2 separate regions of the Homo sapiens genome follow, and region 1 is linked to region 2. The links come from fine-mapping of genetic effects on gene expression. A gene starts in region 2. The other region holds a variant in brackets. All regions are shown on one strand. Distances are between the middles of the regions. Region 1 overlaps SH3BP2 (SH3 domain binding protein 2). Region 2 holds the start of SH3BP2 (SH3 domain binding protein 2).

The links. PIP is the estimated chance that this variant, and not a neighbour inherited with it, causes the effect. A credible set is the group of variants that fine-mapping cannot tell apart.
Region 1: its variant is the best candidate, but not a certain one, in a credible set for the expression of SH3BP2 in whole blood (TOPMed, PIP 0.61).

Annotation. Positions count from the first base shown.
Region 1 is chr4:2,833,699-2,838,071 of GRCh38, forward strand. SH3BP2 (SH3 domain binding protein 2) reads left to right here. Exons shown (of 13, transcript NM_001122681.2): 13 at 1-4,373. The coding sequence ends at 136. Among named protein-coding and RNA genes, the nearest start is that of ADD1, 8.0 kb to the right of the region's middle. RefSeq lists enhancers at 1,451-1,530, 1,791-1,840, 3,506-4,373. The variant G/C (reference allele first, on the strand shown) is at 2,338.
Region 2 is chr4:2,790,678-2,795,050 of GRCh38, forward strand. It overlaps SH3BP2 (SH3 domain binding protein 2), which reads left to right and starts at 2,408. Exons shown (of 13, transcript NM_001122681.2): 1 at 2,408-2,461. RefSeq lists a silencer at 2,126-2,475.

The DNA.
Region 1 (4,373 bases), 43 kb after region 2:
CTCTAAGTTCTACCTGGAGGGCGAGGTCCTGTTTGTGAGTGTGGGCAGCATGGTGGAGCACTACCACACCCACGTGCTGCCCAGCCACCAGAGCCTGCTGCTGCGGCACCCCTACGGCTACACTGGGCCTAGGTGATGGCAGTCCATGTGGCTGCCAGGCCAAGGCAGTCACAGGGGCCCTGACCCCAGGCCACACAGACGGACATGGGCCCACATGGGAGGGTGAGCAGGAGCAAGGCTGTGCTTGCCTAGGGCCTCTGTGATGGACATCTCGTAGGACCCAGCCAGTCTCATCCAGCAGGTTGGGTTCTAGGGCTGAACCAGGCGCCAGGCTCCAGAGGACGAAGGGACTCTGTTGCCCCACACTAACTTGCCCTGTCCCAATCCCAGAAACCCAGGACCAAGCTGTGCCTGGGCTCCAAGGACAGGAACACTGGTCCCCCCATCACACTCACCCCTAAGTGGGCTGGGAGCCAGGCAGGGCCAGGGCAGCTGGGTGGGGGCCGGGGCTGGCCCTGGGACCCCCAGGAACGCTAAGACACAGGCTCCAGTAGGGGCTGTTGCCTCCAATAAAGCAGCAGTGAGCTTTGCCTTGGTGGCTGGGGCTTGATTGGGAAGGAGGGGATTACCAGCTTACTGGGTGCCCATGCTGATGTCTAAGTGGTGACCGCAGCAGTACCCGGGAACCCCAACAGTTGGTTGTCTTGTCTTCCAGGGTGCAGGTCACTGAGTGACTTCCCCAGGGTGCACAGCGAGTAACAGATCAGGACCCAAACTTGGGCAGTCTGGGCTGGGAGCCCACACCCCACTCACCAGTTCTGCTGCCTCAGGTCAGGCCAGGGCAGTGCTGCTGCAGAGCTAGAAGGCCCTGCAGCTACAGCTGCTTCATTCCCTGCATTAGTGCCTGGTTACTGGGTACCTCCTGAGTGGCTGTCCCCGTTCCAGAACTTGCATACACTGAGCGGGCTACAGAGCTAGAAGGCCCTGCAGCTACAGCTGCTTCATTCCCTGCATTAGCGAGCAGTTATTGGGTACCTCCTGCATGCCTGGTCCCATTCCAGACAGGGGCCTCTGGCCTGGCTGAGTTCACAGCCCAGTCTGGGGACAGCTGGGTATGAGGTGCTTACGGCACAGTGTCCAGGGCAGCTGGGTGTGCAGGGACTGGGGGCTCCCGGAAGATTTTTTGGAGGAAGTAACAGCTACGATGGGATGGGAACAGTGGACCCTAAGCAGGCCAAGGGTGCGTAGGGACGGTGGTACCCAGATGCCCAAGTCTTCCAGGCAATACCTGGCTCAGGCCCAGCCCCAATCCATCCCCTTACTTTCTGCCATGGAGTTCCAGCAGGTCACTCTCCCTGGCACACCTTCCAGGCTGGATTTTTAATGAAACAGACTCAGGGAGGTAGGGGCTGGCAGGGACCCTAGAATCCTTGTGATTTTTCTTAGCACCTTATGTCAGGGAAACCTAAACTGAGGTCAGCACTTGGGCCCACTGACAGTGACTGACTGGGGGAGAAGGTCCTGCAGCCCCCTTCCCCTGGGTGTGTTCTGGGGACCTGTGGTTTGCTGGCGGAAACAAGTGATGAGGCTGGTTAGCGGATGTGGGAGGCTGTGACCCCAGGGGGCCATAGGGTGCGGTGGAACTGCAGGCCCTGCAGATGACGGCAGCCAGCTGCTTCCAGGAACCAGGTGTCCAAGGCCACCTCTGCAGGGGTTTCCTCTTCAGCCTGCCTGGGGTGAGAGGTCAGTGCACCACAGCCGAGGCTGGAGCACAGGGAGCTTCTGTTGTTCTGATCTATCTCTGGAAAACCAGCCATTCCTCCTCCCTGCAGTCAGAATTCTTTGCCCTGTCTGACCTGAACTTGCTTAGGGAGTCATGCCACTCCCCACTGTGGCCATAGTTTCTCTTCCTGTAAAATTTTATTATTTTAGTTTTTTGTTTTTGAGATGTAGTCTCACCCTGTCGCCCAGGCTGGAGTGCAATGCCGTGATCTCCGCTCACTGCCACCTCCGCCTCTCTAGTTCAAGCGATTTTCCTGCCTCAGCCTCCCGAGTAGCTGGGATTCCAGGCGCCCGCCACCACGCCTGGCTAATTTTTTGTATTTTTAGTAGAGACGGGATTTTATCATGTTGGCCAGGCTGGTCTCGAACTCCTGACCTCAGGTGATCTGCCCACCTTGGCCTCCCAAAGTGCTGGGATTACAGGCATGAGCCACTGTGCCTGGCCCCTTCCTGTAAAATTTTTAAATGGAGAATTGGGTGCGAGATGTGGTTTCCAGCCTGGTGCCTGGGGTGCTGAGCTAGTGAGTGGTGCAGTCCAGGACACCTTTGCTTTAT[G/C]TCACTTACACGGTCACCTGGAGCCGGCTCAAGTGGCTAAAGCATCCTGGGGCCCAGAGCCAGGTGATAGGTCCCTCTGGCCAACTGGACAGTTGAGGCCTGTGGTTACCCGAAGCCCAGCTGGGGCCCTGGTCCAGCCTCGCCTCCCAGACTCTGCACCTGCTAGCACAGCTGTCCACGTCTGTGTGAGCTGCTCTAGGCCGAGGGCCTCAGTTTCAAGAGTGTGTTGGGGTGGGATGGGGCAGGCCGTGGTCCTCCAGCATGAAGAAGGAGCCATGAGGAGTTCCCATGACCTCCCGAGACTTGCCATAAGTGTTCTAGTCCACATATAAGGGTAGGGTTGGGATTACCATTTACTGACCACATCTGTGAGGTGCCGAGCTGGGTGCTTGACATCATTTGCTTGGAGAAGCAGCTGCTAGTAGACCCATTTTACAGGTGAGAGAACCAAGTCTCACAGAGGCCTGGGTTCAAGTCCCACCTCTGCCACTAACTGGCATGTGACCCTATCTATCCTTCACTGCTCTGAGCCTAGACCCTGGCCCCTGCCTGGCTCCCTGCCAGGCTCCCTGCCACCCCTCACGACCTCTGATGGTCGTTGTGGGGGTCTCTTGCCTGGCTCCCAGGGCTAGGGTTAGGGCTCTGGAGGTGCTTTCACTCAACCAAGGGGGCCACAGCACTGGGGAGTGAAACTGCCCCGCCTCACCCTGCGTTGCCCTCTGGGTCTGTGAGGGTGGGCTGGCAGGAGGCCTAGGCCTTGCCCTAGGGGCAGTCCTGCTTCCTCATTTTATAGATAGGGAAACTGAGGCTTTGGGAGGACTCACTGACATACCTACCTTCAAGATGAGTTCAGGTGGGCTCAGTTCTGGGGCTTGGGAAAAGGGCCCCAGTGGCTTTGGGAAGCACCCCCAGCCCAGGGTGAAACATGCTTCTTCTCTTCCTGTGGTTCCATCCGAAGGATTGTGGTGAGCCCCGTGCCTTCAGTTAATAAAGATTTGTATTGTGAAAAGATTTTTTCTTTTTTTTTTGGGACACAGTCTCACTCTGTCGCCCAGGCTAGAGTGGATTGGCGTGATCTCGGCTCAATGCAAATCTCCAGGGTTCAATCGATTCTCCTGCCTCACCCTCCCATGTAGCTGGGATTACAGCTGCCTGCCAAATTTTTGTATTTTTAGTGGAACCGGGGTTTCACCATGTTGGCCAGGCTGGTCTTGAACTCCTGACCTCAACTGATCCGCCCACCTTGGCCTCCCAAGTGCTGGGATTACAGGCGCGAGCCACGGCGCCCAGCCTTGAAAAGATGTTTTTAGAACCAGAAGAAACCTCGGTTCCCACTGATCCTTCTGGGCCACGTTGTGCGGAGCTCCCCTGCTGGTTGGGGCTCAGCGCAGCCCCAGGGAGGTGCTTCCTGCACCTCAGGATGGGCGAGGGTGGGCATTGGGGGAGAGGGGGACCTGGGACCTGCGGCTTAGTTCCCTGAGGCAGGCAGGGCTTATTGGGGCCATTTCATAGAAAGGCAGATTGAAGCTCAGCAGGGAAGAGGCTTTTGAGGGTGATCCAGGCGCTGGAGGGATGGCCTAGGACACCAGGGTCACACCAGGAACATGGGAGGGCCGTGCTTGTCTCTAGACGAGGGGAATGGGGGAAGGGCCACAACCTCTGTTTCTGTGACCCAGCAGCATCAAGCCCCTCGCTGGGCACCTCGCACACACCCCCTGCCTTATCTCTGCCTGCACGCCCTGTTCCCTCCACCTAGACTGCCTGCTGAGGGGGCAGTGCCAGGAGGTTGCCTGTCCTTGGGGAAGAGGGGCAGTGACCCTGTGAAGATGCTTGACAGACAACCCCCACCACCTCAGAAGTGTGTGTGAGTGGTGAACCCTTTTAAGCCATCTTCCAGCCATTCTCACTGGAGGGAGATTTGATGGGTACAGAGCAGACCCCTACCTGTCTACCCTCCTTCGGACCCCTAGGAAGCTTCGCAGGCCTTCCAGGCTGCCAGACAGCTGCCCTGGCGTTGCCGTCTGCTTCTTCCCTGG
Region 2 (4,373 bases):
CATCTGAGGCCAGCCCTGTACACCCTGCCCTGTAGTCAGGCCCTGGCGGGGCCGCACCGACGTTTGGCTTTGCTCCACTCCCCTCCCGGTCTCTGCCCCTTTCCCCAGCTGGTCCCCTGGGAACAGGACACTTGCTGTGACCCAATGGCATCTGCTCATTTGTCCATTTGCTCCTCTCGTGAGCCACAAGGGTAGGGACTTCCTTGTATCATCTTGGGTCCCCGGGGTCTGGTGTGGGGCCAGGCATTTATTTAGCTGAACTGGACATCAGGGACATCAAGATGTACAGCCCCAAGGTCATGAGTGTTTTGTCAGGAGCCTTAGACCAGTCTGGCCCAGCCTGGAGCTCCCTCCGCATGTGGCCTCTTACAGGAGTGACGCAGCCCCATGCGGTGCTAACAGTGGCAGCACTGAACGTCGGATGGGGCTGAGCCCAGCCACTTCCACAATGGCTGTAGTTCCTATCTCTTCCTCCCTGCTAGGAAAATGTGAAATAGCCCAGAGTGGGGGGTGGGCAGAAGAGTTGCAGGCTACCCAATGCTGGGATGAGCAGAGTTGAGACCTGGGGAGCCAGGCCCAGGACACTTACAGGTGGGGATGTGAGCAGGCACCCCAGAGAGTGAGCACCCCAGCCAGCCAGCACCCATCTACTCCCTCACTGGGGTCTAAGTTCAGCCCCGAGAGCTAGGCTGTAGGTGGGTAGAGTCACAGCCCCAGCGCCGGTGTGAGGGGTGGCCCTGGGCCAGGTAGAGTGAGTATCTGCCTGCTGTCATGCCCCATCCACTTCTGCCGCCTCCCCAGTAGAGGACCCCCTCCATTTCACAGATGGGGAAAAGGGGCCCTGTTGTCTGAAGACTCTCCCATATCCTCCCCTGCCTCTGCCATCCCCTGCTTTGTCCCTTCCCTTCCAGAGGCCCTGCCTTGGTCCTGGTCACTTCCTGGTAGGCACTGGCTCTTCCTCTATGCCTGGGCTCAGGGCCTGGCCACCTAGTTTTCTGACTCCTCCCACTTACTCCCCTCCCCAGTTAACCTCTCTGATCCCAAGTGTGTCTCTCCAGCAGGGAGGAGGGCTATTGCAGCCAGGGATCCCCTTTCTGAGGCTTGGGACCCATTATTGGGCAGCTCTGGGACAGGTGGACGGTGACTTGGCCCACACTCGGTCCAGCTGCAACCCTGAGAACCCGCTTGGTTTGGCTGTGTCTCCTGGAGGCCCTCAGGTATTTCAACCTGTAGGACCCAAACCCAGTCCTTCACCTGCTGCAGGGCCAGCCCTGGACACCCCTGCCCCTGCCTGATTTGGAGCAGCCAATTCAGCCCCTGTCATTGGACTCTGGCCTCTTGTGCTCAGTACAGAGGGTCAGACCTTGGCCGCCTGCCTGGACAGGGCCAGGTCACCACCACCCACCCCCAGCTCCCTTGGGTTCCCAGCAAGATCCTGTCCTTCCTCTACTCACAGCTTCCTGGGCTCTGGGACCTGGGGTCCAGTCCCCACTCCTCATGGGGAGGAGTCCCCCCACGCCCCAAGCAGTTGACTCCCGCACTGGTGGGGGGTCCGCTCGCCCTCAAGCTCTGCAGGCCCAGCTTGGTCTCCCCAGCCTCTTCACTTTCTCCACGGCTCCCTCCACCTACCTGGCCCTGAGAGCTCCCCAGGGAAGCCATTTCCTCCCAGGAAGCCCCTCCTCTTCTCGCCCCTGCCCTTACACCAAGGCATCTGGGCCTACTCTTAGGGAGAGGGTGATGGTGGAGGAAAGGGAGCCTCAGAGGAGGCCAAGTGTAAAGCACCCGGTCTCCTGTGCCTCCCAGCCCCAAGACGACCTCTGGGCCACCGGAGTCCAGACCTGGTCCAAGAGGCGAGGTCCCCCTGGGAAGTGCCTGAAAAGTACCCTGGAGGACATTTGGAAACAAAGACAAGGTTTCCTGGTGCCCAGCAAGCCCTCCCCCACCTCCCCTGCTCCTGTCTTGGCCAGGGCCTAAGTCGCACTCACGGGGCAGGGGTGGGGCCGCCCAGGATCAGGACCACGGGGCTGGGGGGGTGGACAGCGCCCTTTCCACCTGGGTCGCTGGGCACTGGGGTGTCACTGGGAGGGACACGCAGGAGGGACAGACACGCTACCTCACTCACGGGCGAGAACTAAGCACCTACTGTGGACCCGGCGTCTAGGCCCGCGACAACGCCAGTCTTCGCCCCCCAGGGGCCTCGTCCCGGGGCCGCGGAGGCCACGTGCAGTTCCCCGCCCACCCTGAGGTACCGGCCCCGCCCCACGCCCAGCTCGGACCTCCAGGATTGCGGGACCCGCCGGGGAGGGGCGGGGCCGGGGCGGGGCCAGGAGGAGGGCGGACTGGGCGGGCGCGGGCGGGACGGAGCTGCGGCGGCGGCGGGTCCCGCGGGCGGGAGCGCCTGGCGGCCGAGTCAAGCCGCCGCCTCGACCCAGGGCCCGCGGGCCAGGAGAGCGCTCGGCGGGTAAGCCTCGGCGGCGGGTCTCGGCGGGTCTCGGGGGTCTCGCGGGGGGGCGGTCTCCGCGTCTGGAAGGGGCTCGGCGGGCCTTGGCGGTCTGGGGGCTCTCGGCGGGTCTCGGGGGTCTCGGGGGAGTCTCGGGGTCCCGACAGGTCTCGGCGGGTCTCGGGGGTCTCGGGGGAGTCTCCGGGGAGTCTCAGGGGTCCCGGCAGGTCTTGGCAGGTCTCGGGGGAGTCTCAGGGTCCCGGCAGGTATGGGCGGGTGTCGGGGGTCTCGGGTGCGCAGCAGCCTCCCCCGGGCCCCGGGGCCTCCGTGTCCTTGCCAAAGGACGCACGGGGCCTGGGCACGGCGGGCAGTGCCCGAGGGAGCGCGGCTTCGGGGCGGGGGCCGGGTGTCCCTTGCCGGGGGCTCAGGGGTGGGAGGCGGTGCGACGCGTCTGTTTCGCACCCCTCGCGCCCCTCTGGCCCCGCGGCGGGGCCCCTTTACGCGACCCTCCCCACAAGACTCAAAGGCTGCGGCGGGCACTCGCTCTCCGCCCTTCCCGGAATCCAAACTTCCCTCTGCAGCGGCCGCGCTTCACGGAGGGCAAGAAAAGCCGCCCACTGGCGCTGATTCACACTGAAGTGTGAGTGACTGATAGCCGGGCGTCTGAGACTCTCATGGGCAACAGGGAATCTCAGGGGTGGCAGAGGGACTGGAGGAGTTAGGGGGCGGGGACAGCCCCTTCCACCTGTACGCTGGCCTCCCTGCAGCCCAGCACTTTCCCGCTGCTCTGGGCCTCGGCTCCCTGGGGGTATTGAGGGCCTGAGCCCTGCTGTGGGGAGCCTTCTGCTGGTGCTCCTTTCCGTGAGCACCTCCTATCCCCTCTCTGTGCCTCAGTTTGCTCATCTGTTGACACTGGGGACAGCTGTGCCTCCTGGTCTAGTGGCCACACTTAAGTCCTTCGAATTGGCTGTGGCCAGGGGCGGGTACTCCGTGTGGGCTGCTGGGGTGGACAGCCTGCCTGGATGACATGTGTGTGGCCTTGCAGGTGACATGGGCCGGTGATGCAATGTGTAGAATTGTTTCCACAACCGCCTGAAGGCAGGGCCCACAGCCTCCTCCTTGCCGAAGCAAGCCTCTGGGTTCAGGTCAGCCCTGCACCAACTCCATGAGCCTGGACAAGCTCCTGCCCTCACTGGCTCAGGCCCTGTGGGACCAGAGGAGGGGCTGGGCTCCACCCCCTCCTGGTTCTTCCCACTCTGTCCACTGTCTCCTCTACGTAGACACCGTCGAAGGGCCCTCTTGGAGCCCAACCTCAGGGCCCCACTCCAGGCACTCCACTCCTGGCAGGACAGGAGGCCTGGGACGAGGGCTGCAAGGGAGTGAGGATTCTGTCTATCCCCTCTCCCTGCCACCCGCCAGGCTCCCTTTGCCTGGCTCTGTGCCCTGCGTTAGGCACACCCTGGAGGGGGCAGGCAGAAGGAAGACAGATAGGCAGCCGTGTCTAGGAACTGCCAGCCAGGGCCATCTGGTGAGAGGGGTGCTGACAGGGGACCTGGCCTTTCAGGGAGTCCCCAGGCCTCCAGGATCATGGGGGAGCCCACCAAGGAGGCTGGCCTGAAGAGGCAGACAGAGGGAGGACAGGCTCTGGGCCTGCCTTGGCCCTTTCTGCCCACATGGACAGAGGAAGCAGGGTGCTGAGTCAGCTGGAGCTCCCCACCCCCCAGGGATGCACGCACACAAGCAGGCCCACAGACGGGAAGTCCAGGGGCCCAGAGAGACGAGATGGCCAGCCTTGGTTCCTGAGGGGCAGGGAGGAAGGGCGCAAACTCAGCCAGGATCTTGGGTGTGAACTCAGATGCCACCAGTTTCCAGCTGTGTGATCATGGCCAGGAGGCTTCCCCCTGCCACCCCTCCGTTTTCTCATCCATGACCT